Homo sapiens: one gene and its partners. The protein of the gene in region 1 purifies or fractionates together with the protein of each later gene. This does not show direct contact. Each region holds a gene or a part of one and is shown in the gene's direction. Other genes may lie near its edges.

Region 1 (3,360 bases):
GCATCTTTGTGTGAGCGTATCCCACAGTACAGGACGTGTGCTTTCATCCTTCTGCTCAGTGGGCGTGCTCAGCCCCTGATCTGCCTGCACCCCTGCACCCCAGCCGTGGGGCCGGCCAGCTGTGGGGACTGAGTGATGCAGCACGGGGTGCTGGCAGTGGCTCCTGGCCTTGTTACTGGGGGTGGTGCCCAGGCATCCTCATGTCCTCCTCATAATGCCATCCCCAAGCCCATGTCCATCCTACCTGCCAGGGCCCCTTGAGGACACGGCCTCTGAGGCGGAGGCTTTGCCAGTGATCCCAGACTCCTGAAGGGTGCTGAGCTCGGAGCTGGGGCTTCATAGGCCCATTTTACAGATGGGGGACTGCAGGCTGCCCCTTAGTGTCAGCGGGACCCTCCCCCCCACCGGCATGCCACGCCCCTTGCCATCTAGCTTACCTTCCCTTTTTGTGTCCCCTCCCCGACTCCCCTAGGAAAACGTACGAAAAAGGGCATGGCGACCGCCAAGCAGAGGCTTGGGAAAATTTTGAAAATTCATCGGAACGGGAAACTACTCCTTTAAGATTTGGAAAGCCAGGATCCTTCTGCTCCGCTCAGGACCCCCGGAGCCCCGCGAAAACATCTGCCTCCCAGGAGGGTGCCGAGCTGCCTCACCAGGGAGGGCCTTGCCTCTTCCCGGCTGCCATCTCCCCAACAAGCGTCTGTCCCTTCAGCCGGCAGAGCGAGCCCAGCGTGGCCCCTCAATTTGAAAATGGACGTCTTTTCTCAAGTTGCTAAGAGTGATCTGTCCCAGAAAAGCGGCCCTGCAAGTTTGAGGACCGCTTATTCCACTTTAAGGACAGCCTTCAGGCCCCCTGAGCGTGGGTGTGATTGCAGGGCCTCTGCAGCTCTGCTGAGAGCATGAGTCCTTCAAGGAAGACAGAGTGAGCCAATGCTCACCAGCCCCAGAGTCAGAGCTGGCCACAGGCTGGCAGCCTCCAGGGGCTTAAAAAAAAAGGCAAAGAACACAGAAAGAGGAGGAGCAAGTGGGATGTTTATGTCCCCCCTTCTCTTCCTGAGTGATTCTCAGCCAAGTCCAGACAGTGCTCGGCGGGTGAGGAAGGGTCTGCCCCGAGCTTTCTGGTTGGCAGGTGGCAGCAGGATGGTGGGTGTTCAGCCTGAATGCCCAGGAGCATTTCTGGGGGGCAGCTAAGACTGGCAGCTGGGTTGGTGTGTTAGCGGGCAGGGGAGCCATTGTGGGGTCCCCAGGAAAGGGCAAGGGCTCAGCCACATCTTGGGGTCTGGGAGGCCCAGGCTAAGCCATGTGGCAGGGACCGTCTTGCCCTGCTGGCCACACTCTGGAGAAGCACTTCTCAGCCAAGGCACCCCTGCCCTGGGACTGGCAGGGCAGGGGCAGGGGCAGGGACAGTGGCCAGGCGGCCCGAGGACTTACGGTCGGCACTTCTCTGTTCTCCCGTGTCAGCGTGTGGTGTCGCCTGCATGGGTCGTACCTGGATGGTGTGTCCACCATCGACACGGAGGGGCTGGATTTGTTTCTCAGGCAATCCTGTATTTTAATTTTAGATGTATTTCCTGAAGCATATTTTTCATAGAATGTAGCGTGTAAATAGCTTTTTAAATAACTTCTTTTTTATAAGAGTAAAAGTATCTTTAGGAATTTCTTTCTATAGAGTTCTTCATTAACATTTATACGAGTTTTTTGCTGAGTCAGATGGACAGTTGGGTTCTGATGCTTTTTCCTTCTCCTTTCCTTTTATTATTATTATTTTTTTCTTTTAAGAACTAAGGTATTGCCTGAAAAACAAGTGATGTCTGTGCAGCCTTACACTCTGTCTTTACAGAAGCAAATAGTACACAAAAGATCTATTTCAGACACATTTTGAAGATGAATCTTCAACTTTAATACCAGCTCTTTGTTTTCCTTGTATGATGAGGGGATTGGGGGATACAGTTATTTTACTAGCACCTTGTGAAGTGTTTCCGTGTTTTGTGATGCTGTAATTTATTAATGTTTGTAGCTTTTTATATTTGTACATTTCTTATGAGCTTTGTTTATATACCCATTACCTGGATGTTTTTGTCCACTGGGAGAGGCAGCTTGGTGGAGGCCTTATCCACTCCCACTTGTCCTGTTTGGAGGGACGCAGTCCCTAGGGCCCGAGACTGGGTGGGAGAGGGGGAGTCTCACGGGGCCCCAGGCTTATTCAGAACTGGTGTTTTTAAAGTTTCCTTTACCCTGCCCTTGTTGAACATTTATATAATCTAACCTGGACATCAAGCTGTTCTCTCTCTCTCTTTTTTTTAATTTTATTATTATTATTTTGGCAACATGTACATTTCTAACAAAGTTTATCGTGGCTATTAAAGTGTTTTATTTCCCAATTCATATTACTCTTGTATCGAGTCCATGAGGTCTAAGGCAACTTAGATCAAAGTTTTAAAAAAGTAAAAATATTTCAGGTTTTGTACAGAACCATGTCTGTGTCATTTCTGCCTCGACTGTAGTTGTTCACCCTGGCAGTGAGGGTGGTGGGGAGGCTCCAGCCACCTGCGTTCCTCATGGAAAGCTTCGGGTTGCTCAGCCAAATCACACACAGCACCCCAAGCTGGCTGGCAGGAGTGGACAGAAGAGACCCTCGGGGGCTGCAGGGGTGGCAGCAGCGTTTGTCAGTCCCAGCCCTGAGGATGTCCTTGGGAAGCCTCTAGAACCTTCTTTTGGACTCAAGGGTATGGCGTTTGGCTGAGTCCAGTAGGCACACACATGTGCACCCCAGCACGGATGCACACCCAGAAGCATTCAGTCCCTTGCACGGTTCTAGCCTAAGTCTGATGTGATTACAGCTAACTACCAGGAACAGCCCTTACCTGACAGAGGCACTCAAATGGTGCAAGCCCAGGGAGGGTGCTGAGCGCAGGGGTGGGGTCGCTGCTCGTGATGTGTGGCAGGCAGGGCTGCTGGGACACAGGTGAGGCCTGGGTCAGTCTGTTGGTGGGGGTGCATGCGTGGGGGTGCTGGTGACAATGTTGAGGACCACGGATAAACAGGCCATTTGGCGTTTATTGAAGAAACATGAATAACCTCGGGCCATTTGGGCAGGCAGATGCTGAGAATCAAGGGGTGTGATGACGGCTGGACTGGCCCAGGCCCCCACACATGGGGTCTTGCCCTGGGATGGGAGCTGGGAGTGGGATAAGCTGGAGACAAGTTTGGCCTGGGTCACCCAAGGTTGCTCAGCTTGCAGGTTGCTGAGCAGGGTCGGCCCTGGCTGCCAACACCCTGAGGAAGCAGGATCTCCAGTAGACCCTGAGCAGAGGGCTCTGCCGTGCTGGGTGTCTGACCCACCACTGCAAGATTCTAGGG
Region 2 (4,356 bases), on another chromosome or scaffold:
CCTCCACCTCCCGGACACAAGTGATCCTCTTACCTCAGCATCCTGAGTAGCATGGATTACAGGTGCTCACCACCCTGCCCAGCTAATTTTTAATTTTTTTTTTCTTTTGAGACAGACTTTTGCTCTTTTTGCCCAGGCTGGAGTGCATTTGTGAGATCTCGGCTCACTGCAGCCTCTGCCTCCCGGGTTCAAGGGATTCTCCTGCCTCTGCCTCCCAAGAAGCTGGGATTACAGGCATGCACCACCATGCCCGGCTAATTTTGTATTTTTAGTAGCGACGGGGTTTCGCCATGTTGGTCAGGCTGGTCTTGAACTCTTGACCTCAGGTGATCCTCCTGCCTCAGCCTCCCGAAGTGCTGGGATTACAGGTGTGAGCCACCACACCCAGCCTACTAATTTTTAATTTTTTTGTAGGGACAGGGGTCTCACTAGGTTGCTGGTCCTTAACTCCTGGGCTGAAGCGATCCTCCCACCTCGGCCTCCCAAAGTGCTGGGATTACGGGTGTGGGCCGCTGCACCTGACCCTGCTCCCGCTTTCCTTACATTGTTTTGTAGCAGCTGACAATAGTTCATCAGATGATGCACCAGAACTTCACCCAGTGCTCCTCTGGATTTTCCTTATCATAGTACCAAGAGTGGCACAGCAAATACCCTGTGTCTTTGCCATTTTGCATACATGTAAATACGCCTGTAGAATAAATCCTAAAGGATAACTACTGGGTCAGAGCATAAGTCCATTTAAAATTTTGAAAGGGGGGCCAGGTGCGGTGGCCCGTGCCTGTAATCCCAGCACTTTGGGACGCCGAGGTGGGCAGATTGCTTGAGGTCAGGAGTTCGAGACCAGCCTGGCCAACACGGTGAAACCTCGTCTCTACTAAAAATAGAAAAAATAGCTGGACGTGGTGGCAGGCACCTGTAATGCCAGCTACACAGGAAGCTAAGGCAGGAGAACTGATTTAACCCGGAAGCTGGAGGTTGCAGTGAGCCAAGATCGCACCACCACACTCTAGCCTGGGTGACAGCGAGACTCCATTTCAAAAAAAATTAAATAAATAAAAAAATTTGAAAGGGGGCCGGGAGTGGTGGCCAATATCTGTAATCCCAGCACTTTGCGTGGCTGCGGTGGGAGGATCACTTGAGGCCAGGAGTTTGAGACCAGCCTGGGCAACATAGTGAGACCCCTGTCTCTACAAAAAAATTAAAAAATTAGCCGAGTGTGGTGGTGCATGCCTGTAGTCCCAGCTACATGGGAGGCTGGGGCAGGAGGATGGCTTGAACCCAGAAAGTTTGAGGCTGCAGTGAGCTATGATCATGCCACTGCTCTCCAGCCTGGGCAACAGAGTGAGACTCTATCTTTTAAAATTAAAATTAAAACTAAATTGTAAATTTTTGGCCAGGCGCGGTGGCTCATGCCTGTAATCCCAGCACTTTGGGAGGTTGAGGCAAGCAGATCACGAGGCCAGGAGATTGAGACCATCCTGGCTAACACGGTGAAACCCCATCTCTACTAAAAATACAAAAAAAAAAATTAGCCGGGCGTGGTGGCAGGCACCTGTAGTCGCGGCTACTCGGGAGGCTGAGGCAGGAGAATGGCGTGAACCCAGGAGGCGGAACTTGCAGTGAGCCGAGATCGCGCCACTGCACTCCACCCTGGGCGACAGAGCGAGATTCCGTCTCAAAAAAAATTTTTTTTTTTGATAGGCATTGCCAAGTTGCTGTCCGTAAAGATCATTGCCCTAAGTCACACTCGCATCACAGGGTGCCACGGGGCCTGCTCCCTCGTGCTCTGGTTGGCACACGTGCAGCACAGTTTTGGCCTTTACAGGATCCATATGTAACAAAAGATATCTGACTGTACTACCTTTTAGTTTACTTTTTACTTTTTATTTTATTTTTTTCTTTTTCTTTTTTGAGATGAAGTTTCACTCCTGTCACCTAGGCTGGAGTGCAATGGTGTGATTTCACCTCACCGCAATCTCTGTCTCCTGGGTTCAAGTGATTCTCCTGCCTCAGCCTCCCGAGTAGCTGGGATTACAGGCGCCTGCCACCATGCCGGGCTAAGTTTTGTATTTTTAGTAGAGACAGGATTTCACCATGTTGGCCAGGCTGGTCTCAAACTACTGACCTCAAGTGAATCCGCCCGCCTTGGCCTCCCAAAGTGCTGGGCTTACAGGCGTGAGCCTCCGGCGTGACTGTACGATTTTTAAAAATAAACCTTTTATGTTAGTATAGTTTTAAATTTATAGAAAAATTGGAAAGTGCAGGGTGTTCCCCTGTACCGCACCCAGTCTCTGCTATTTGAATATCTTACATTATGATGGGACGTGTACAATTAACAAGTCATTATTGGTAAATCACTGACTAAAGTCCACACTTGATTTGTATTTTTGCAGTTTTTCTTTTCTGTCCCAGGATCCCACATGATTTTTGGGCTGTGGGTCTCAGGCTTGTTTGGGCTGTGAGTTTCTCAGACTCTCCTTGTTTTTGATGACCTTCGAGTTTTGGGGAGAGCTGGTCAGGGATTTTACAGAATGGCCCCCTGTTGGCCCTTGCCTGATATTTTTCTCGTGATCAGACTGGGTGGTGGATGGGTTCTAGGAGGAAGGCCACAGAGGTAAAGTACTCTTCTCACCCCATCCTGTCTGGGGTCCACACTGTCCATGTGACCTCTCACTGGTGATGCTGCTGGCCTTGGTCCCCTGGCCAAGGTGGAGGGTCAGGCTTCTCCACTGTGAGGTCGCCCATCCCCTGTGCTCTCTGGAAGGAAGTCGCTTTGTTCAGCCCACATGGAAGGGGTGGGGAGTTTTGCTCCCCCTCCTTTAGAGAAGAGCATCTATAGAAGTTATTTGGAATTCTTCTACACAGGAGATTTGTCTGTTCACCCTCATTTATAATTTTTTTTTTTTTTTGAGACAGTGTCTCACGCTGTCGCCCAGGCTGCAGTGCAGTGGCATAATCTTGGCTCACTGCAATCTCCGCCTCCCGGGTTCAAGCGATTTTCCTATCTCAGCCTCCTGAGTAGCTAGAACTACAGGCGTGTGCCACCACACCTGACTAATTTTTGTATTTCAGTAGAGATGGGGTTTCACCATGTTGGCCAGGCTGGTCTCGAACTCCTGACCTCAAGTGATCCTCCTGCCTTGGCTTCCCAAAGTGCTGGGATTACAGGCATGAGCCACTGCACCTGGCCCCACTTATTAATTTTTTCAATCATTTATTATAATGGACTCGTGGATATTTATTTTACACTTCAAGTTATAATTCAATGCTAGTTTGCTTATTTTGTTGCTCTCATTGTCACAGCTTTGGCCACTGGGAACTTTCAGGTGGCTCCTGGGTCCCTGTGTCATTGCCCATCACTTTGTCTTCTGAGCACGTCCTTATTTCTGGCCCTATAAACTGCTCCAGCCTCATCTTGTCTATTTCCTCCTCCAGTCCTAGAATCAGCCATTTCTTCAAGAAGCCCCGGTTCTTTTTCTTGGAGAGTGGTCTCAGAGACCAAGGTCTGGGAGCTGGGTGTGCTTGTCCCTACTGGGCTGTTTCTGGTCTTCTCAGCCAACAGAGCAAGGAAGTATGTAGTGTACGCCAGTTGGTGTGTAATATACACACTGTCTATAGATAGTAACCTACCTAGTAACCATTGGTGTTGTGCGTCCTACTGATGTCTCTGCCGCTAGTGGCACCTCTCGCCCCCCCGACGCTTGCTGATTGTAACCTCCCCTCCTGCAGTGAGGATGCGGCCCCATCGTCTGCTGTCCCTGGTTTAGCTCCTGTGTGTGTGTAAGGTGTGTAAGGTGGTGTCACAGTGGATAACCCAAACCCCATGGGAAGAACACCACCAATGCTGTGCTATGCTCTGGGACAGCCCCTCTGCACGGGCCCCACTCCTGCCCACGGCTCCTCGGGACAGCCCCTCTGCACAGGCCCCACTCCTGCCCAGGGCTATTAGGAAGAGCCCCTCTGCCTTTAGGCTGACAGGCCCCACTCCTGCCCGGGGCTACTCGGAACAGTCCCTCTGCACGGGCCCCACTCCTGTCCAGGGCTGCTTGGACAGCACCTCGCCCTCCACCTCTGATTTTATTTCTAACTTAACATCTGTGAGTGAGGCTGAACATCTTTTCTTTTCTTTTCTTTTTTTTTTTTTTTGAGAGGGAATCTTGCTCTGTCGCCCAGGCTGGAGTGCAGTAGCGCAATCTCGGCTCACTGCAACCTCCGCCTCCCAGTTCAAGTGATTCTCCTGCCTCAGCCTCCTGAGTAGCTGGGATTACAGGTGCGTGCCACCATGCCCGGCTAATTTATATATATATATCTTTTTAGTAGAGACAAGGTTTCACCATGGTGGCCAGGCTGGTCTCA
Region 3 (4,356 bases), on another chromosome or scaffold:
AATTTTTGTTTTAAAATGAATTTCTATATTTTTCTAAGGAAACTTGGTTTTAAATAGAGAAAAAATTTAAATATGCTCTTTCTTCCCTTACAGGTTTCACCTTGCTTAAATGTCCTGTCACGACTGTTGTTTAGCAGTGACCCAGATGTGTTAGCAGACGTGTGTTGGGCCCTTTCTTATCTCTCCGATGGACCCAATGATAAAATTCAAGCAGTCATTGATTCTGGAGTCTGTCGAAGATTGGTGGAACTTTTGATGTAACTATAAATAATTTATGCTTAATAATTGTATGATTGAGATTAAAATTAGCAATTCAAGTAATAGCTTTGTAAATATCTCAAGAGTCACTGTCTTCAGGGAAAATTAAAAAGCTACTGACCCAACACTTAACAGAATAGCCATAATCCTAGAAAGTTGACCCTAAAATTTGGAACTTATGTCCTATAGTTGGAACTAATTATTTTGTAAATGAATTTCCTTAGTTTAATGTGATCTCTTTATGAATTAGATAAACTTAATAAGTATTTATGGAATGCCTGTTATCTGCTAAGGTGTTGTGTGAGACATTAATGAAGTATAGAACACAGTTTCTCCTCTCACAGAACAAATAATCTAGTTTATTATTCATTATAATAATTAATTTGAGTAAAAGTCCATGTAGTGAAAATCATTTAGTATTTCACCTCTATTAAAGATAACATGTTTCTCTTTGCTGGGCTGTTATAGCTATTTTCCTTAAAAAGAACAGCTTTTCTATACAAAGAAGTTAAAAACGTTGAAGAAAACTTGTTTTAAAAAGATGTTGTAACTTCATAACTTCATCTACTTACCCTCTTTAAAAAATGTATTATCTTCCTTCCTTTCTTCTTTTGTCGAGAAGCCATTGTAGGCCCAAACAAGGTAGATGGCACAAAGATAGGTCTGATAAGGAGTTGGGGGTCCCAGCATGAGGATAGCATCAGTGGAGGGTGGGCATGCAGGTTCAGCATGGGGGATCAGGGCCCCAACTTGATAATGACACCCACTGGGGTGAGCAGATAAGCAGGCTGGAGCAGGACTTGGAGCCAGCACATCATGGGGTACCAGTCTGGCTGAGGTAAAAGATTGGCTGATATAGGGAGGTTAGGAAAATAGAAGCTATTTCCTGTTATCGGAGAATAGAGATAAAAATATAGAAGAGGAGAAAGCCTGAATAATTTAATTATTTTAGATTAGAACTAGAAATATCAGTGTGAACTCATGGCTCTTAACATAGCTAGGTATGGAAATAAATATATACATGTGTGTAGGTATGTGTGTGTGCATCCTCTTGAAGGGCATGGGAACAGTAACACTTCTACATTAATAAGCTGAGGAAACTGAAGTTCAAATCGAAGTTTCTAAACACTACTCTCCATTGAAAGGAACCAAGATTGTTGGAGAAATGACTGGTTTCAGGACTGGGACTGAGAAAAATGTAAGATGAATGCAGGAAGTAATGAGTGCTCAAGTAATGGACAGATGTCAAAAGAACACAGAAGCCTATTTGAAGGGGTTCTCACTATCCAAACCTGGGACAGTTTGTGCTTTGAAATAAATTGCATTAATGTATATTTTATTGAATAAAATATGAAACCCATAAGTCCACACTAAAGCATGTAGTTAGAATGATAGTATTAGAAATACATCACTGGTAATAATACTAATAATTACCAATACTTCAGATAATAAGCATCAAGAGATGCTAAAATCTAGTGGTAAAGTAGGTTAAGGAGTGGGATTTTGCATTATCTCAAAGTATTTTGTTGCAAAATATTAATTATATTAATTATAAATGGGAAAACAATAATGGTAAAATGGAAAAGTCTGGCAGACATCATCATAATTAGTGACCAGAATTCAGTACCAATATAATGGGAAAAAACAGATTGGGATATAATGAAAAGGTTATAGCACTTACGATATCCCCCAGCCAAAGTATATAACCTGGGTCTTAATCATGAAAAACATTGGATAAACCCAAATAATGGGCTTATGATCTTCAAAAATGGCAAAATCATGAAAATTAAGGGAAGACTGAGAAATCATTCTGGAGAGACATGAAAACTGGCTGTAATGAACGATCCTGGATTAGATCCTTTGTTATAAAGATTATCAGAATAATTAGTAAAACTTCAATGGGATCTTTGGCTGAACACCCCGCAGGAGTTTGTAGTATTTTTGTAACTTCTGTGTAAATTTTAAATTCTTACTAGTATTTAGGTTCATGTTTTTATTATTTTTAGGCACAATGATTATAAAGTTGTATCACCTGCATTAAGGGCAGTTGGTAATATTGTGACTGGTGATGATATTCAAACACAGGTGAGTTCAAACTTGAGTATCATAAATTGTTAACATAAAGGACTTTAAAAAATTTATGTTTCATACAACTTGATTACATATTAATCAAGATTTTAGCATCACCATAATTGTGTGTGTGTCTGTATCTGTGTCTTGGAGGATGGTGAGATGTCAAAGAAGATGTGCTGTCAAGATTGACTCCAGCCAGATTTGGGTTACAATCTTTTTATTTATTTAGTAAGTTAGTTTAGTTAGAGACAGGATATTGCTCTTTCTCCTAGGCTGGGGTGCAGTGGTGTGATCATGGCTCACTGCAGCCTTTACCTCCCTGGCTTAAGCAGTCCTCCTGGCTCAAGCAGTCCTCCCGCCTCAGCCTTCCAAGTAGTTGGGACTGCAGGTGTGCACCACCACACCTGGCTAATTTATTTATTTATTTATTTTTTAGGGACAGGGTCTTGCTATGTTGCCCAAGTTGGTCTCAAATTCCTGAGCTCAAGTGATCCTCCTGCTTTGGCCTCTCAAAGCGTTAGACTTACAGGCATGAGCCAGTATGTCCAGCACAATCTTTCTTGAAGATAGAAACTTAAATTATTTAACACGTTAGATTCTCCTTTGTTTACCGCCTTACAGTGTATTTTTTATTCTAACCTACATATTTTCTTTCAGTTTTATCCTTTTAAAGGCCTATTTGGATACTAATCATAGTTATTAAATAGTTGCTCTTTAGTAATTGACAGTTATTCATTTAATATAGCTCTTGAAATGAAAATGCCATTCTAGACATATACTGTAATTTTCAGTTGGATTTCCAGTGCACTGCTCCACACTTCTTCACCAGATGAATTTAATGTAAATCATTGGAGTATTTTGAATATAGGAACATAATTAATCTTGCAATGGAATAAAGAATGTAAAGGGACAATGCAGAATATACTTGTTTACAGAAGAAGAGTAAGATAGTAAAAATTTTTATGAAGCCAATTGATTCTACATGCTGTTTTTAATGGTTGTAGAATTGGATTTTCTCAGACTGTATGATATATGTATTTTTTTCACCAATTCATTTGGCAAAACTAGAGGTTGGATCCTGACCTCGGTCACCAAATCTTTTTTCAGTTTTATCAGTTGAACTCTGAGAACATTTGTAAATATGAAGGATACACCTCTGATTTTCATTTTATTGGGTTGAGAACAGGGCAGTTCCTTATAGTGGCAGGAGACTAGGTTTATCAATAGCAGACGTGTAGAAGACAGCAAGTTTTACTTTGGGAGGAATTTCTCCTTTCTTAATTTCACTTTCTAGAATGGGTTTTGTACATCTAAATAATTCATTAGTAGATTTTCATATAGGTTATTTACTATAAAACTTTTTGTTTCCATTTCTAACTTGTTTTAGGTAATTTTGAATTGTTCTGCATTACCCTGTCTCTTACATTTATTGAGTAGCCCAAAGGAGTCAATTAGAAAAGAAGCCTGCTGGACTGTTTCTAACATCACTGCTGGAAATAGAGCTCAGATTCAGGTAACTACCCTTCAGATCTGAGAGTAGAACAGCAAGGTCTAAGAAGCCAGTTTGGACAAAAGTTAACACTTTTACTAAAAAAGATTCCTTTTTAAAAAGATACCGAAAAAGTATTTTAAAGAACATGGGCTTTCCTCCTCTAAAATAATAACATTTACTTGTAGTATTCTAGTGAAGAACATCAAGTGTGTGTGTGTGTGTGTGTGTCTAGCACAGTGCCTGACACATAATGGTTTGTCTTTAGAAAGATATTTTTTTGCATTAGTTTTAAATAAGTTATGCAATAATCTTCCTCTCAAAGCTTTTAATGATTTATTAGGGTTCTATCAAGCTTCTTGTGTCAGTGATTACTTATCCATTTTGATCAGTCACATGGCTTGTGCTTTATCATCTCTAAAATTTATATTTTGCTATTCTCCAGTCTTTAAAAAGCTAATTTCCTATGTAAAAAGAAAAATATTTGAAAAGTTTGCTGACAGAATAGAAATTAAAAATTTATTTTAATGTCAAGG
Region 4 (4,356 bases), on another chromosome or scaffold:
TGCCCTGTTTGAGAAGCTTGAAGAGGAGGAGGTGCTTGCTCAGGATCACACAGGGAGTGAGCAGCAGCGCCAGCACCTGACCCAGGCCCACTGGAGTCCAAAACTAGGCATAACTATGGCACCCAGTAGACCAAATCTAAGGAAGCTTGGGCCCTGGTCCCAACACAGCCCTGGGCCTCTTGCTCCCCCGACTTCCCTTTGCCCCATGCCCACCCGGCAGCCTCACATTGTGGCCTGTGCCCGCAGCATCTTCCTCATCGACCACGCCTGGACGTGCCGTGTGGAGCACGCGCGCCAGCAGCTGCAGCAGGTGCCCGGGCTGCTGCACCGCATGGCCAACCTGATGGGCATTGAGTTCCACGGTGAGCTGCCCAGTACAGAGGCTGTGGCCCTGGTGCTGGAGGAGATGTGGAAGTTCAACCAGACCTACCAGCTGGCCCATGGGGTGAGTGGGTAGCTGGGCCCCGGGGAGGGGGAGGACAGGCATGGGCACAGACCTCCGCTGCCCTGTGCCATCAGGCCGGGTGAGGGGCCGGCCAGAGCAAGCAACTCACTTTCTCCTGTGGCTTCCTAAGGAGAGTGCTATCCTGGGGACTCGGACCCAGCTGGCCTCTGAGCTCACAGGACGCAGCCCTCTCAGACTCCTAAACTGAAGGGGCCCAGATGACTCAGCCGCCTCTTTCCTGGCCCCCCTGATTCTGTCACTCTCTTAAAAGCCCTCAACCATTCCTCACCCACCCCTGCTGGCCTCTCCGGGGACTCACCCCATGCTCCAGCCCCTCACCACTCTTAGTTTGGGAAAAGACACCTGCTTGTTTCTCATGATTTTAGCTTAGATGTCATCTCCTCCAGGGACCCTTCCCTGAGCTCAAAGACGACTCCCCCGACCCCCCCATTACCCTCAAACCCATATACACCCCTACGGGTGCTGGGCTGAGTGCCTTGTTACCAAACGCCCTTTTACCACGAGTGTTCACGCTGTGTTACCCAGGCCTGTGTCCTGGTCTGCAAAGGCAGGGCTGCTGTCCCGGAGCCCCTAGCTTAGCTAAAGGGCCTGGGGTACATGTGAGAGGGCCTCCAAGATCAGAGAAATGGCTGTGGGCTGGTGGTCGATGTCTGGGTTCCGGAAGGGAGTTCCGGTGGGTGGATGGGTGAGCGAGAGGTGCCATATGTGCTCTGTCTGCAGACAGCTGAGGAGAAGATGCCGGTGTGGTATATCATGGACGAGTTCGGTTCGCGGATCCAGCACGCGGACGTGCCCAGCTTCGCCACGGCACCCTTCTTCTACATGCCGCAGCAGGTGGCCTACACGCTGCTGTGGCCCCTGAGGGACCTGGACACTGGCGGTAAGTCCAGCACCTGCCCGCCCTGGAGGAGGGGCCTCAGCCCAGTGTCCCGTCACCCCCTCTGATGGGCACTCATGTCTTGGCACAGAGGAGGTGACCCGAGACTTTGCCTACGGAGAGACGGACCCCCTGATCCGGAAGTGCATGCTGCTGCCCTGGGCCCCCACCGACATGCTGGACCTCAGCTCTTGCACACCCGAGCCGCCCGCCGAGCACTACCAGGTGCAGCCCTCCTCCACCCACCAGGCCTGTCTGCTTGGTAGCTTCCAGAATGTTCTCTGTGCACACACCAAATGTTATCAAACCCCAGCCGGGTGCCAGGCCCTGAGCCAGTTACCGTGGGAGGCATAGAGTTTTGGGAGCCTCTGAGAGACGAGGGGCTCAGAGAGTGAACACAAGCTGCCTGTGGCTGCACGGTGGGGGCTCCAGATCCCAGGGTGCCTGGTGCTGGCATCCGTCCTCAGGGGGTCCACGCTGCTCCCTTGGGAAGGAGGGGGCTGTGCAGTTGGTCTTGGCCATGAGCCCCACTCAGCCCCCTGTCCTCATCTCACCGAGGCATGGAAACACCCTGTGTTCACACATCGCGTGCCTCCCTCCCTCTGCAGGCCTGCGAGTTACCATCATGGTCACTGTTATTGATAACAAAGGTGCTTTCAGTCTTGGTCAGGGCCCCGAGGGACCCAGCTGGCCCACTCGGTAGTGCCTGGCTGGAGGTAAGAGCTCATCCAGGCCCCATACAAGGAGGCTGGCGGGTTAGGGAGTCGGAGTTGTCGAGGCCCCAGTGCCGGGGGAGGAAGAGGAGCCTGTGGGAGCGTAGCCACCTCCAGAACCAGTCAGGGCTGGGTAGGAGGTTCCTACCCTGACCCATCTCTCCTCCTTCCCCTCCTCTCCCATCTGCTGCTGCTTCCGTAGGCTGGAACCAGCCTACAAGGGAGCCTGTGCTTAGTACTTTGTGGGCGTGTGCCACTCAGTTCCTTACAATTTTACAGTTCTGTTTTTATCTTCATTTTACTGAGGATGAGGACATTGAGACACAGAGAGGTTAAGTCATTTGCCAGGGGTCACACAGCAGGGGGAAGAGCTGGAGTCCAGCTGAGGCTGCAGGCTTGCCCCCACGGCGACTGAAGTCATCCTTTTTGCACACCAGGCGCTCACTAAGTGCCTCGGAGGGTTTCGGGAAGGGTTAGACGAGTTGACCCATGTGAGAGTGGGCGCGTGGAGGCTGGGCGTGGGGGCTCATGCCTGTAATCCCAGCACTTTGGGAGGCTGAGGCGGGCGGATCACAAGATCAGGAGATCGAGACCATCCTGGCCAACACGGTGAAACCCCGTCTCTACTAAAAATATAAAAAATTAGCTGGGCGTGGTGGCGGGCACCTGTAGTCCCAGCTACTCGGGAGGCTGAGGCAGGAGAATGGTGTGAACCCAGGAGGCGGAGCTTGCAGTGAGCCGAGATCGCGCCACTGCACTCCAGCCTGAGAAACAGAGCGAGACTCCGTCTCAAAAAAAAAAAAAAAATAGAGCGGGCGTGTGTGGAGTGGTGGCGTGTTTGTGTGGGCGCTGCTGATTGCAGGGGTGGGCTGTGGGTGGGGGGGCCTCCTTTCACTTTCGGTCTAAGTCAGTGGTGATTGAACCAACCATGCCAAAAACAAGGGGCTCAGTCTTGTTGGTTCAAAGGGTGCTTACAAGCCTCCCAGAGCCCCTGCACCAGGAAGGTGCTTAGTACACGTTTGTCTGAAAAAGTGAATGCCTTCGTGGATGCAACTGGAGGGACAAACACTTCCTGGTCTCGGGTTTGTTTGTTAATGGAACATGAACTAAAGTTTGTGTTTTTCCTTGGGAAGCTCTGGGCTGACCAGGAAGAGGAGGAGATACAAGGCCACGCATCCTTGTTTTTTCCCATTTGACCCTTTACAATCAGGTCTGTGCTCTGGGCCCAGGGTTGCCTATGTTGATTAGCTATGGCTGGGTAACAAGTAACTCCAAAACTTAGCACCTTAAAACAGTAAACATTTATTATCTCACACGATTTCTGTGGGACAGGAGTTCAGGAGTGGCTCAACGGGGTGCCTCTGGCCTCAAGTCTCCCTTGAGGTACACAGGCCGCCCGTCGGGCTGTGGACCCGCTTCTGCATGGCATATGTGCATGCCTGCTGTGTTGGTGCTGACTGTTGGCAGCAGGCCTGGGCTCCCTGCCTTGTGGGCCTCTCCATAAGAGTGCTCAGGTGTCCTCAGGATGTGGCACCTGATTTCTCCCAGAGCAAGTGATCCGAGGGAGAGAGCAGAGAGGAAGCCTCAGGCTTCATGGCCTTGTTGCAGAAGCAACCCTGTCCCTTCCACCTTTTTCCTGCTCATTAGAAGCAACTCATTAGGCCCATCCCACCCTCAGAGATGGATGCGGCTCTGCCTTTGGAAGATAGTGTCAAAGAGTTTGTAGGCATGTTTTAATCTTTTTTTTTTTTTAATTTTTTAAAAAAGATAGGGTCTTGCTTTTGTCCAGGCTAGAGTACAGTGGCATGATCCTAGCTAACTGCCATTTCCAATTCCTGGGCTCAGGCAATCCTCCTGCCTCAGCCTCCCGAGTAGCTGGGATTCCAGGCAACTGCTACCAAGCCCCGCTAATTATTCAACTTTTCTGTAGAGACGGGGTCTCACTATGTTGCCCAGGCTGGTCCTACACACCTGGGCTCAGGTACTCCTCCACCTCAGCTTCCCAAAGTGCAGGGATTACTGGCTTGAGCCACCATGTGCAGCCACGTGGGCATGTTTTAAATCATCACACTGCAGAAGCTCCCGACAGCCCTCGTGGCTCCTAGGACAAAGCGGCTCCTCTCAGGAGGGGTTTGGCACCTTCTCGCCCCCTGCGATTTTGAGGTAGCACCGAGAAGATGTGCAACAATGTTTACCTTGTTCTTTTGACACCAAACTAGGACTGTTCGGCATCCGAGGGGCCTGGAGCCCCAGAATCCTGGGGTGAGGGGGGTGGTTAGAGGCTTTGGGGTGTTGGGAGG
Region 5 (4,356 bases), on another chromosome or scaffold:
CTGTGTCTAGGATTTCTTTCAAAACAATTCAAGAATGGAGGGAAAGTAGCTAAAAGAAGACTAGCTATGTGTATTCAGTTGTTGAAATATATGCAACAGGTATATTATTCTATATTTGTAGAATTTGAAATTTTTCATAATTTAAAAAAATAGAAAAAACTGCCCAAGTAATACTGAAACTCTTCTTTGATATAGTATATTCCAATATCATATAACCTCACACCTGGAAAATTGTTCCTAATATAATAAACCAGAATTTCCCAGTTTTAATTTGTACCTTTAATGAACTCTGAAAATTTGACAGTTATGCTAATGTTCTACATTAAAATTGTTTCTCTCAATTTGTAGTTGTTAAAGGCAATTATTCTAATAGTTTTTTGGGTTTGACTGACATAGACAGATACAGAGCTTGGTGCTCTGCAGAAGATCCATCTTAAATTATTCTTTCTTGTAGGAAAAATTGTTTCTTTGAAAAACTGTTATTTTAAGGTTCAGAATTACAGTGAATTCAATATTAATAAAAAGTACTGTTTTAAAAAAAAATCTTTATTTTTTTTCTGAATAGGAAGACAGACAGTTGAACAATCAAAAAAAGCCAGCACTGAAAAAATTAACTTTACTGCCTGCTGTAGTTATGCACCTTAAGAAGTAAGTATTTTGTTTTCTTTAAAATGTCTTTTTCCTTTTCATGGAATGATAATTCAAATGATGTACTGGTGTTCTAGGAATATTAAATAATGATAGACTTCTATCGGTTCACAGAAAGATAATGAATAAAATTTCCTAAATTATATTTCTTCATAAATTTTTATTAAGCCTTGATGCCTGGTGCAAACAGAACAAATAAAAAATTGATACTAACGAAAGAAAAACTTGGAAACTACTAATTTTGTGTTTTTTTGTTTTGTTTTTGTTTTTTTGGTAAAGACAGGATCTTGCTATGTTGCCCAGGCTTGTCTTGAACTCCTGGGCTTAAGTAATCCTCCCACCTCATCCTCTCAAAGTGCTGGAATTACAGACATGAGCCACTGCACCTGGCCACTAATTTTGTTCTTTATAGACAGTTTTTGGTCTGGTAAAATTGCATCTGTTTTCTCCGTGTGATGGAAAATAGTAAATCTTGGAAGATCCTACCTGAAGGCTGCATTGTACAAGGCTTATATGACTCTAATGTGTCACAATTATTGATCCTTCTGAAGTAATGATGCCCTTTTTGAGTAGATCCTTGTTTCTAACTTTTTTCATTGATTTGCTTTTTTTTTTTTTTTTTTTTTAATTAGAGACAGGATCTCGCTGTGTTGCCCAGGCTGGTCTCGAACTCCTGGGCTCAGCCGATCTTCCCGTCTCAACACCCCAAAGGCAAAGTACTGGAATGGGATTACAGGTGTGAGCCACCACACCGGGCCCTGATTTGCTTATATTTCTGAGCAACCTTGCTTTCTCTTTGAACTAAGCCACAGCCTACTTTTGATGACTGAGGAAATGTATTGGTGCATCAGTGAGCTGCCACCAGCATGGCCTAGAGCATCTGTAACTAGAAAATTTCTCCCTCTATTCTAACAGGGGAAACTATCTGTGGCAGGTTTTATGTATATAATGTTATCTTTTCTATTAACATAACTGATTCCAGTACATAAAATGGAATTTAAGTATTATTTTATTGAGTTTTTTTTTTTTTTTTTTGTCCTGCCAGTGGAGTGCTAGTCTCATTGGTGTCCTGCAGAGAAGAGCAAATCTGGGTTCACCACCATGTAAAACTGTTCAAGAATCACTATTTTGATAGATTGAACGTTTTTTTTTTTTAGTTGAAAAGATTGGAGTTAATTGTTCTTACTGTCTGTACCATTCATATCAGCATTAATTTATCTTGTGTAACTTGAGTTTGTTTTGTTTTCAGCAAATCATCTTTGTCAAGTATATGCATTTCTGGAAAATAAGAACTAAATGTCATACTGCTTTCGAAACCAGAATGGTGTTCAGTAAATGTCAAATTTATATGAGTAACGCTTTAAAAGCAGTTTTTAGAAACATCACTAAATATGTAAGAAAAGTCGGAAGATACAGTAGAACCAAGGTTCACAGAATTTTTAAAAATTATTGTTACTGCAGGCAGGACCTTAAAGAAACATTCATTGACAGTGGTGTGATGTCTGCCATCAAAGAATGGCTCTCACCTCTACCAGATAGGAGTTTGCCTGCACTCAAGATCCGGGAGGAGCTGCTGAAGATCCTGCAAGAGGTTAGAGGCAGATAATCTGACTGTTCTTTATTAATTATCTAATGTGGTCTGTATGGTCATAACCTGTGTAGTTTACAGTGTTTTTATATGTTATCTCTGCTACAGCCTGCCAGAAGAGGGGTTGGAAAAAAGGAACATATCTAATAAAATGAGCGTGAAAGGGAAGACCTTATAAAACTTCATGTAACTATCGCATTGAAGGGAAAAAATCTTAGAGTAGCTGTAATGTGTCTGAGAAGAGTAGTACAGTAGTGGGCAAGTTCCAGGGAGAAATGTGACGCAGAATGAACACCAAATTCAGAATCATATGAACTTGCATTTGAATCTTGAGCTGGGCCACCTTACGTAGTTGTGACACCTTGGGTAAGCTATTTAACTTCTGAAGGAATTCCCAAGGAAACCTCCTATGCCACGCACTGTGCCAGGTGCTTTATATATGTATTGATTCGTTTTTTCCTCACAGTAAACTGAGAAGGTAGGTGTATTATTTCCATTTTACAGATGAGGGAATTAAGATGCAGAGAAGTTAAACGACTCGTCAAGGTCACATAGCTAGAAGGTGGCTGTGCTTGGGTTCAGTCTTAGGTCTATTGGATTCTGAGGCCTGTGCTGGCTCCTGTATTAAACTGCTAACCTCTGAGTACGCTTGGTTCATACTTTCTCACATTGTTAGGTTTTACTTCAACTCAGCTGTAATACTGAGCTCTCAACCTCTTTTTGTTTTTTTTTTTTTTGAGACGGAGTTTTGCTTCTGGTGCCCAGGCTGGAGTGCAGTGGCACCACCTCGGCTCACTTCAACCTCCGCTTCCTAGGTTCAAGCGATTCTCCTGCCTCAGCCTCCCGAGTAGCTGGGATTACAGGCGCCTGCCTCCACACCTGGCTAATTTTTGTATTTTTAGTAGAGATGGGTTTCACCACATGTTGGCCAGGCTGGTCTTGAACTCTTGACCTCAGGTGATCCACCCGCCTCAGCCTCCCAAAGTGCTGGGATTACAGGCGTGAGCCACCATGCCTGGCCTGAACTCTGAACTTTTGATGTGGACACAAAGTATCTTTGTGTTCTATGTCTGTAGATCCTGAAAATGGAATTTTTTATTTGTTCTGTTGTGAATGTGCCAGGTCTCTAGAATAGACTAGCAAGACCCCCAGCTTCCGAGTGATTAATATGTGTGTATGTGTTTATGTTCCCCAGCTGCCTAGTGTGAGCCAGGAGACCCTGAAGCATAGTGGGATTGGACGAGCAGTGATGTATCTCTATAAACACCCCAAGGAGTCAAGGTCTAACAAGGACATGGCAGGGAAATTAATCAGTATGTAAATTTTCCTTTTTGTTTGTTGTGTTTATGTGTATAGATAAGAGAGAGATGCGTATATATAAAAGCTGTATTTTTACCAGTATTTGTTTTAAACGAGTCGGTAAAGTGGAATAGAAATTTTTGAATAACTTCTTACAGGTACTAGCATTTTCTCTTAGACTTTAAAAAAAAACCTCAATATAATTAAGTATGCTATTCAGTATTAAAAATAGCAAGTAAGAGGCTGGGTGTGGTGGCTTAACGCCTGTAATCCCAGCACTTTGGGAGGCTTAGGTGGGCGGATCACAAGGTCAGGAGATCGAGACCATCCTAGCTAACACGATGAAACCCCATCTCTACTAAAAATACAAAAAATTAGCCGGGCATGGTGGTATACACGAGTAGTCCCAGCTACTCGGGAGGCTGAGGCAGGAGAATCACTTGAACCCGGGAGGCGGAGGTTGCAGTGAGCCGAGATCGCGCCACTGCACTCCAGCCTGGGCAACAAGAGCGAGACTCCGTCTCAAAAAAAAAAAAATTGCAAGTAAAAAGTATGCATTTTCTAGTCATGGGTCGAGAGCATGGAGAAAGAGAGGGGTTAGATTGCAGGCCATGGAGTTGATATTACCTGGGTTCAGATCATGAATCCACCACCTACCTTACTGCATTTCCTTAGCTAGTGATTTGTGCTCTGTAAAGTTGAGATAATTATGTGTTTTCTTTTGGGTGACTTTAAAGATTAAATGAGAGGTTGTGTCTAAAGCACGGTGCTTAGCACATAGTAAGTACTCAAGAAACAGCCATTGTTGTTGTTACTTGCAC
Region 6 (4,356 bases), on another chromosome or scaffold:
CTAGACCTATTCCAGTTGCAAATTTAACTTACAGTGTGAGTATGGGGAAAATTTTAAGAGCATAAGTGCTAAATACAACATCCAAACTACATCAGGCTCATCATAGATACCATGTATTAATAATAATCATACACAAATAAATACATTAGTGTCTTTATTCTAGAGTAGTTCCCGCTTGTCAGTCTCAGACTGCAGTGCTACTGCAGTCTGCACATCTAGCTCCTGCAAGTTGCAGCAAGTCAGAATTGCTTCTGGCACACCTCTTATAACTGGAAGTCTTGGTATTGAGCTAGATTGGAGGCATTCCCCAGCTATAGCATAGTGTGTGCTTTATTGCTAACCTAGGCGATGGGAAGAAAGAGAACACAGCTATCTTTCCAAGCTGTGTGCAGCATGGAGCACCAGCTGCCCTTGAGACAGAAGAAAGCTGTTGTTTTCATCAGGTAGGCTGTGTGTTTCTCTGTTAAGTAGGCTGAGGGGCATCTGGTCTGCAGGAGCTGGCATTTAATTTGAAGATGTTGAGGCCTTAAAAGATTGAACTTGTGGGTCTGATAGCCTAATTAGAACAAGCTATGTGTGGGGGCTGCCGTACTCAAATCTGTTTTTAATGGCTCAGTTCAGGGCTGAGGGGGAGCAATGTCAAAATTAAAATTAGAGCTCTAGATTTAATTGGCAGAAGTTTAAGACTTTCACTTTTGGCAGTGCTCAAGCTAAATGACCTTAAGGATAGAGATCTTGGGGTCATGGGGGAGCATCACCCTAACCCCTAGGCTTACTATACCGCATCTCTTTAGGGTCTTTACAGTCACTCCTCAACTTTTTGGACTCAGGACCCCTTTATACTCTTAAAACTTATTTAGGACTTCAAAGACATTTTGTTTATGTGAGTTATATCCTTTGATATTTACCAGATTCGAAATTAAAACTCAGTGAGACATTTAAAAATATTTATTGATTTATTTTAAAGTAGTAAACAATAATACTTTTTATGAATAACAGTAGTTTTTTGGGTTTTTTTGTTTGTTTGTTTGTTTTGAGACGGAGTCTCACTGTCGGTGCAGTAGCACCATCTTGGCTCACTGCAACCTCTGCCTTCCAGGTTCAAGCAATTCTCCTGCTTCAGCCTCCTGAATAGCTGGGACTACAGGCGCCTGCCACCATACCCAGCTAATTTTTCATTTTTAGTGGAGGCAGAGTTTCACCATGTTGGCCAGGCTGGTCTCAAACTGCTGACCTCAGGTGATCGGCCTGCCTCGGCCTGGGGTTACAGGCATGAGCCACAGCACTCGGCCGAATAATAATAGTTTTTAAAACAAAACATTTTAGTAAGAATGGACTGGGTGTGGTGGCTCACTCCTGTAATCCCAGAACTTTGGAAGGTCGAGGCAGGTGGATCACTTGAGCTCAGGAGTTCGAAACCAGCCTGGCTAACATGGTGAAACTTTGTCTTAAAAAATAAATGAATAGCCGGGCGTGGTGGCTCACGCCTGTAGTCCCAGCACTTTGGGAGGCCAAGGCAGGTGGATCACTTGAGGTCAGGAGTTCGAGACCAGCCTGGCCAATATGGCCAAACCCCATCTCTACTAAAAAAAACAAAAATTAGCTAGACGTGGTGGCGAGCGCCTGTAGTCCCACCTACTCGGGAGGCTGAGGCAAGAGAATCGCTTGAACCCAGGAGGCGGAGGTTGCAGCGAGCCAGGATCGTGCCATTGCACTTCATCCTGGGTGAGAGAGTAAGACTCTGTCTCAAAATAAGTAAATTAAGTAAGAATGACATTCTTTGTTTTTTAGTACAATGTTTTAATGTCTGCTCTAACAGAATACAGCTGTGTTCTCATATGTTTTTGCATTCAGTCTGTTGTGATAACCACATGTCCTATAACCTCTGGAAAACTCCACTCTATGCTCCTGAGAGAACAGAGGGACTGGCCCCTGGACCACGCCCTGAAAACTATTGATAGATGTGGTACTGTCAACCATGAAGAGTCAGACAGACCTCAGCACTTACAGATGATAGTTTTGTCACCTTGAACAAATGACTACATCTCTCTGAGTCTGTTTCCTCCTCTGTTGAGAGAGAAGTGTGCTGTAACTCATAGGACAGTGTAGGGATTAATAGAATACTTGTTCTCCTTGATAGGGACATAAAATAGTAGGGTATTTGTTAGTGTCTGGCACTTGGTAGGTGTGTAATAAGCATTATTCCTCAGGGTACTTTTTAAAAAATTGCTTAAAATACCCAAGAGAGACCCATATTATTTTGATTGGGTTTTGTGTGTGTGTTGTGAGTTTATTGTCCAGTTCTCTTCCTGTGCCTGTTCTGTGTGTCTATTGTAATATATAAAACGATTTTATGGTCCTTATTTTCATATTTCTATCTCTAGGAGACATTCAACTCCTTGAAAATGAACAATCCGGCCAGGCGCGGTGGCTCACGCCTGTAAATCCCAGCACTTTGGGAGGCCGAGGCGGGCAGATCACCTGAGGTCAGGAGTTCAAGACCAGCCTGACCAACATGGAGAAACCCCCTCTCTACTAAAAATGCAAAATTAGCCAGCATGGTGGTGCATGCCTGTAATCCCAGCTACTCGGGAGGCTGAGGCAGGAGAATCGCTTGAACCCAGGAGGTGGAGGTTGCGGTGAGCCGAGATCACGCCATTGCACTCCAGCCTGGGCAACAAGAGCGAAACTCCATCTCAAAAAAAAAAAAGAAAGAAAATGAACAATTCTCTTCAAATCCCCAGCTCTTAGCAGAGTATATGTACATTGTAGGCATTCAGTTAGGTTTGTGGAAAGAATGGCATCTGAAACCTCAACCGAAAATTGAACATTCCCCCTCCCTCCTATACCTTCAGTTTTGTTTTCTTGAGTTTAGTTAATCTCAAGTTCATTGGTTATAGTATTGATTGAGCTCCGTAAGGGCAATTTTGAGGAGAATTAGAGCCACAGAACTTAAGGCACCTTCAGGTAGCCATTAGCCACCCTTCTCTTCTCTCCCCTCCCACTGCCATCTTTAACTGGGAAGATGGCAGCAATATGAAAACGTAAGTAGTTTATTTAACAGACACTTAACAGTTGCTAATTTGTTAGCAGCTAATTTGTTGCTAATGTGTTGCAGCACACCTGAAGGGATATAGCTTTTCTGGTGCAGAATCACAGAGTGCCTTGTAATGCCTCTTGTATTGCCATTTATGTTTTCATGATTTTTATTAGTCTCTCTATTGGATATGTTCTTTATCTTCCAGAAGCTTGTAGTCTAAGTGAGAGAAAGGTACATGGGATATATCCCATAGACCATTTTACTGGATGGGGTGAGGAGTGATGCTGAGTGTGTCAGCAGCCAGCTTTAGGGTTCCACAATGGAATCTTGTTGTGATGATGTGTGCTGTTTTTTAAGTCCTACTCAAGGCCCATCAAGCTCCATGTTACGGTTCTTGAAGATCCCTACTGTCGTTTCCAGGCTTTGGATGAGTCTGAAAGCAGGGAAGTAGAAGATAAAGTTGGGGTTGGTTGGTACAGAATTACAGAATGCTAAGGAAAATTAGGCTCAGGATTCAAATTCAAACTCAGGTTAACCCATCTTGAAACAATAGGTTCTTTCCCCTATGTCATGTAATATTCTCAACTATCCTGTAAGGTAGGTAGCGCTATTACCATTTTCCAGGTTAAGAAAGTGATATTCAGGCATGTCCAATAATTTGCTTAAGTTTATGTTTAGCCCGTAGGGTATGAAACCAGGATTTGATTTCTACTCTTGAGCCCAGCAGTCTTTCCATTTAACCATGTTGCATTTATTTTGTAGGACATGGAAGCCTTTCAAGATTTTTTGCCTGCAAGGGGAGTAAATGATAAAACTAGGCCCTTTTTGGACCCAAATGCTCCCAACCAGTACTCACACAAATTGGCTCAAGTTCATGAAGTATTTGTGTGTTTAATCTATTGAAAAGAGATTTTGCTTTTGACTTTGCTAATAAGTATGAATAGTGTATGTAAACATATGAAAGCACCTTTTATAAAGTTGGCACTTATTGTTTCCAAGCCTCCTAGAAGCAGATCACATAATCTCACTCTACCACCATATCCCCACTTAATTGTCCCTACATTAGTTTCTTTCCTCATTTGCCCATTCCTGTCTTCAAATGGTAAGTGAGGTAAAACTTTGGGGAAGAGAGATGATACATATACAAGTCTGGTATAATTGCCTTCTTTTTCTTTTTTTCTTTTCTTTTTTTTTCTTTTTTTTCGAGGCAGATTTTGCTCTTGTTGCCCAGGCTGGAGTGCAGTGGTGCAATCTCAGCTCACTGCAACCTCCACCTCCCGGGGTCAAACCATTCTCCTGCCTAAGCCTCCAGAGTA
Region 7 (4,356 bases), on another chromosome or scaffold:
GTACAAAAGATAGTTGCAATTATTTATGGAACTTACTTCTTTTACTGTTACTGCAATATAATAATAAGCTTTAGAGCATATGTTCATTGTTTTCTTTCCTACCAAGTCAAGGATCTGATGATTAGAAATGATTTTAAAAAGTGGTACAGGAGGAAATTGTTTTGTTTTGTTGGGAGGATCACAGAGTTACATTGAGGGAAAAGTCATTTGAGCCATCCAAATTGAAAAACTCTAAAATTCTGTGGCGCTATTTCATTTTGTTAATAAGGATGGTGGGATCAATGTAAAGGAAGCTTTCTCACTGTTGGTGCTATTGACATTTTGGACTGGATAATTCTTTATTCTGTTTTGTGTACTGTAGGGTGTTTAACAGCATCCATAGCCATTACTACTACATGCCACTAACACTCCTAACCCCAGTTGTGACAACCAGAGATGCTTCTAGAGGTTGCCAAATGTCCTCTGGAGAGCAAAATTGCTCAGGTTGAGAACTACTGACATAGAGGGAAGAAAAGGATAAAATTTCAGCTTACCGGTATGTTTTTAGGTTAGGAAGAGGGAAAACAAAACTTTATTAAGTAAATATATTAATAAATATTCAGATGGTCCCAAAGTGAAAGCAGCTGATGTAGGAATGTCTTGCATATGACTGCCTACTACAGTGATAAATTACTGAGACACGGGATTTAGTTTAGGTGAATGTGCGTTTTGAACATCACTAAGGCCAGTGCTGGAACAGTGGTTAGATTCCTGAATGTGCCCATCTTATAGTCCACTAGGTAGGTAAAAATACTGCACCTGAAAATAAAAATATAGTTCAGTGCCACAATACTTTATCCAGAAACACTTGGGCTAAATATATTTGAGATTCAGATTTTTTAGACTTTAGAAAGGTATTTGGGTATATTTGCAATATGTTGTATAATCTACCTAATAAAATATGGCCATCACCTTTAGTCACATTTATATTTTTGCTGGAAATTCTATGAATATTCACACTGAGACTATTAATAACCTCATGTCAGTTTAATCACGTGATCACATTTGATGTCAAATGAGGTTACTGCAAACTTAAAAGTTTCCAGTTTTTGGCACTGTTTGGGTTTACTAGTTGCAGGTAAGAGGTTTTGGGCCTGTGCTTGGAAACACATGTTATAAATGTACAGTTCTGTAGCTACATCATTTCTATGGTTACATGGGTCTTGCATTCTAAACAGCTAACTTAGAAAAGCAGTCCATTAGAGTAGACTTCCTGTCCTTCTCTTCAGTAGCATAGTCATGTAAGAGCTGATCTGGAATGAATAGATATCTTGGGAAGGAGAATTCAAGAAGGAAGTTATGGAGACAAAAATGGGGAATGCGGAAACATTGAAGAGCCAGAGAAAGAAGAAAAAGGAAAGAGATGCTAAGGGAAGCAAGGCAATCCTGCCTATTTATCCAGTCCCTAATACCTATAACCTTAATGCTTTCAAACCTTCTTACGAAATACCCTAGCTCCTTCTCTCTTTTTTTCATCTTTGAGTAAACTTTGTACTATATTTTCTTAGTGGTCCTTGTGATTTTCAAATGCCTTTTCTTCTTTTCACAAAAAGAAAGAAATCACTTTGAATCTACTTCTCAAATCCTTTCTTTTCATTTGTATGAGAATTTGTACCTGACTTATCCATGAAATTTTCTGTTCACCCTTTGACTTTATTTTATTTTATTTTATTTTTTTGAGATGGAGTCTTGCTCTGTCACCCAGGCTGGAGTGCAGTGGTACAATCTCGGCTCACTGCAAGCTCCACCTCCCGGGTTCACGCCATTCTCCTGCCTCAGCCTCCCAAGTAGCTAGGACTACAGGCGCCCACCACCACGCCCGGCTAATTTTTTGTATTTTCAGTAGAGATGGGGTTTCACTGTGTTAGCCAGGATTGTCTAGATCTCCTGACCTCGTGATCTGCCCGCCTTGGCCTCCCAAAGTGCTGGGATTACAGGCGTGAGCCACTGCACCTGGCGTTTTTTTGTTTTTTTTTTTTTTTGGAGACAAGGTCTTGCTCTGTCACCCAGGCTTTAGTGCAGTGGAATGATGACGGCTCGCTGCTCACTGCAGCCTCCATCTCCCAGGCCCAATCAATCCTCTCACCTCAGCCTCTTGAGTAGCTGGTACTACAGGCATATGCTACCACACCCAACTAATTTTTCTATTTTTTGTAGAGGACAGCATCTCATTATGTTGCTCAGGATGGTCTTGAACTACTGGGCTCAAGCAATCCTCCCTCATTGGCCTCCCAAAGTACTAAGATTACAGACATGAGCCACTGGGCCCAGCCGATTTTTAAAAAAATAATCTATCGTTAACTTTATTGATTCAGTAAGTTAGTTTTCGTGTGTGTGTGTGTGTGTGTGTGTGTGTGTGTGTGTGTGTGTGTATCTGTAGGTGTCTGATATTATAGTTTCTTAGTACCTATTTGAGAGGCCACCTGGTGTAAAGTGCAGAAAGCCTGGATTCTATTTCCAGTCTCTCATTGACTCATTCTCTTATTTGGGCTTTTTATATAAGTTTTAAAAAATAGATTCCAGACTTATTGTGTGATAGCTTTCAATTTTTTTCTGGTCAATTTTTTCTTTTTGATACTCTTTCTTTCAAAATTATGTCATTTGTGATGGATTTTGTTTTTCATCTTCTAAATAATTGAATTTTACCTGCTTTGATTATTTTTATTTTTTAGAGACAGAGTCTTCCTCTGTTGTCCAGGCTGGAGTACAGTGGCACAATCATAGCTCAGTATGGCCTCAAACGCCTAGGCTCAGGCTTTCCTCGCAAGTAGATAGGACCACAGGCATGCACCACCATGCCTGGCTAATTTAAGATTTTTTTTTTTTTAGAGATGGGGTCTTGCTATGTTGCCCAGCCTGGTCTCAAACTCCTGGGCTCAAGTGATCCTCCTGCCTAGGCCGCCCAAAGTATTGGGATTATAGGCCTGAACTAGTGTGCCTTGGCGCTGTTTTGATTATTTTTTGTAATTGCTCATCTTTTAGTGAAAACATTCTTGGAGTAAAAGCCCCATTTTGTGATTTTTAATATATCCTAAAGTTTTCTTTGAAATTCTAGTCAGGTTTCACATACCAAAAATTTCACATCATTATTTACTTTTTTTCCTCAACTTTAAAGGTTGTGTTTAAAGTCACGCTGAGGTCAGTGTGTTTTAGTCCTAAAGGCTCACTTTTCTAAGTCTTTGGCTTGTTTATAATGAAAACAAAATCCCATCTCGATTTTTCTCAGTCCAAGTTAGACAAAAATGGATTTTACAAAATGAACTTTGTTAAAAATCTGTAGAATGGGAAAATATGAAGTATATGAAAGTAGATTTTCCAAGTACAAGTTTCTTCTGTGACTGCTAAGGTCACTGCCTAACAGGTACCAAATAGAGTACCAAAGTACAGTTCTGGAGGTCAGAAGTCCAACAACAGAGGTCCCATGGACTTAAAATCAAGATATCGGCAGGGCTGCATTCCTTGAGGAGGCAGGAGCAAACATTTACTAAGTGTTGTTGTATACTTGTGCTAGGTGCTTTAAATGGATTATCATTTAATCCTAACAATGGTTTTTTAAAAAATTCATTATATAAATTTAATCAAGATTAGAAATTTACTCACACAAATGCCATTCAGAGGTAATTTAAATCAAAGAGTCAATACACATAATTTCTTTTCTTTTTAATTTTATTTTACTTTAAGTTCTGGGATACATGTGCTGAATGTGCAGGTTTGTTACATAGGTATACATGTGCCCTGGTGGTTTGCTGCACCTATCAACTCATCAGCTAGGTTTTAAGCCCTGCATGCATTAGATATTAGTCCTAATGCTCTTCCTTTCCTTTCCCCCTAATCCCTGACAGGCCCCTGTGTGTGATGTTCCCCCGCTATGTCCATGTGTTCTCATTTTTCAACTGCCAGTTATGAGTGAGAACATGTAGTGTTTGGTTTTCTGTTCCTGTGTTAGTTTGCTGAGGATGATGGTTTCCAGCTTCATCGATGTCCCCGCAAAGGACATGAACTTACTCTTTTTTTATGGCTGCACAATAAACATAATTTTATTTTTACTTCAGTTTTTCCTGGAGAATCAAAGAGAGGGACACCTCCTGTTTTTTATGAAACTAGTATAACTTCGCTACCTAACTCAGATAAAGAAGATATTAGAAATGAAAATTATGGGTTTATCTTACTTATGATCATAGATGTAATATGCTAAATAAAATAAAAAATTAGGTCACATTTAAACTGGGTTTTCCCAAGAATAAAGGATTATTGAAAATAAAAGAATCTCTTTTTTTTTTTTTTCTTTAAATGAGAAGGAGTCAGCATTCTCATATT

What was found.
Region 2: the proteins of PHF2 (region 1) and CEP131 purify together in Homo sapiens (affinity purification with mass spectrometry, with the first as the bait; one large-scale study listed by BioGRID). This does not show direct contact.
Region 3: the proteins of PHF2 (region 1) and KPNA5 purify together in Homo sapiens (affinity purification with mass spectrometry, with the first as the bait; one large-scale study listed by BioGRID). This does not show direct contact.
Region 4: the proteins of PHF2 (region 1) and TTLL12 purify together in Homo sapiens (affinity purification with mass spectrometry, with the first as the bait; one large-scale study listed by BioGRID). This does not show direct contact.
Region 5: the proteins of PHF2 (region 1) and IWS1 purify together in Homo sapiens (affinity purification with mass spectrometry, with the first as the bait; one large-scale study listed by BioGRID). This does not show direct contact.
Region 6: the proteins of PHF2 (region 1) and SUPT6H purify together in Homo sapiens (affinity purification with mass spectrometry, with the first as the bait; one large-scale study listed by BioGRID). This does not show direct contact.
Region 7: the proteins of PHF2 (region 1) and YTHDC2 purify together in Homo sapiens (affinity purification with mass spectrometry, with the first as the bait; one large-scale study listed by BioGRID). This does not show direct contact.

What each region holds. Positions count from the first base shown.
Region 1 is NC_000009.12:93,677,116-93,680,475, forward strand, and holds the end of PHF2 (lysine-specific demethylase PHF2), read left to right. Parts: intron 1-472; coding exon 473-561; 3' UTR 562-2,472; downstream 2,473-3,360. UniProt on the Homo sapiens protein: Lysine demethylase that demethylates both histones and non-histone proteins. Enzymatically inactive by itself, and becomes active following phosphorylation by PKA: forms a complex with ARID5B and mediates demethylation of methylated ARID5B.
Region 2 is NC_000017.11:81,212,112-81,216,467, reverse strand, and holds part of CEP131 (centrosomal protein of 131 kDa), read left to right. Parts: intron 1-4,356. UniProt on the Homo sapiens protein: Component of centriolar satellites contributing to the building of a complex and dynamic network required to regulate cilia/flagellum formation.
Region 3 is NC_000006.12:116,722,033-116,726,388, forward strand, and holds part of KPNA5 (importin subunit alpha-6), read left to right. Parts: intron 1-93; coding exon 94-257; coding exon of another isoform or gene 258-261; exon of another isoform or gene 262-1,292; intron 1,293-2,264; coding exon 2,265-2,343; intron 2,344-3,718; coding exon 3,719-3,844; intron 3,845-4,356. UniProt on the Homo sapiens protein: Functions in nuclear protein import as an adapter protein for nuclear receptor KPNB1. Binds specifically and directly to substrates containing either a simple or bipartite NLS motif.
Region 4 is NC_000022.11:43,176,831-43,181,186, reverse strand, and holds part of TTLL12 (tubulin--tyrosine ligase-like protein 12), read left to right. Parts: intron 1-246; coding exon 247-445; intron 446-1,186; coding exon 1,187-1,346; intron 1,347-1,434; coding exon 1,435-1,568; intron 1,569-4,356. UniProt on the Homo sapiens protein: Negatively regulates post-translational modifications of tubulin, including detyrosination of the C-terminus and polyglutamylation of glutamate residues. Also, indirectly promotes histone H4 trimethylation at 'Lys-20' (H4K20me3).
Region 5 is NC_000002.12:127,491,164-127,495,519, reverse strand, and holds part of IWS1 (protein IWS1 homolog), read left to right. Parts: intron 1-565; coding exon 566-648; intron 649-2,109; coding exon 2,110-2,239; intron 2,240-3,431; coding exon 3,432-3,549; intron 3,550-4,356.
Region 6 is NC_000017.11:28,668,188-28,672,543, forward strand, and holds part of SUPT6H (transcription elongation factor SPT6), read left to right. Parts: intron 1-345; exon of another isoform or gene 346-443; intron 444-461; exon of another isoform or gene 462-3,044; intron 3,045-4,356.
Region 7 is NC_000005.10:113,516,190-113,520,545, forward strand, and holds part of YTHDC2 (3'-5' RNA helicase YTHDC2), read left to right. Parts: intron 1-4,356. UniProt on the Homo sapiens protein: 3'-5' RNA helicase that plays a key role in the male and female germline by promoting transition from mitotic to meiotic divisions in stem cells.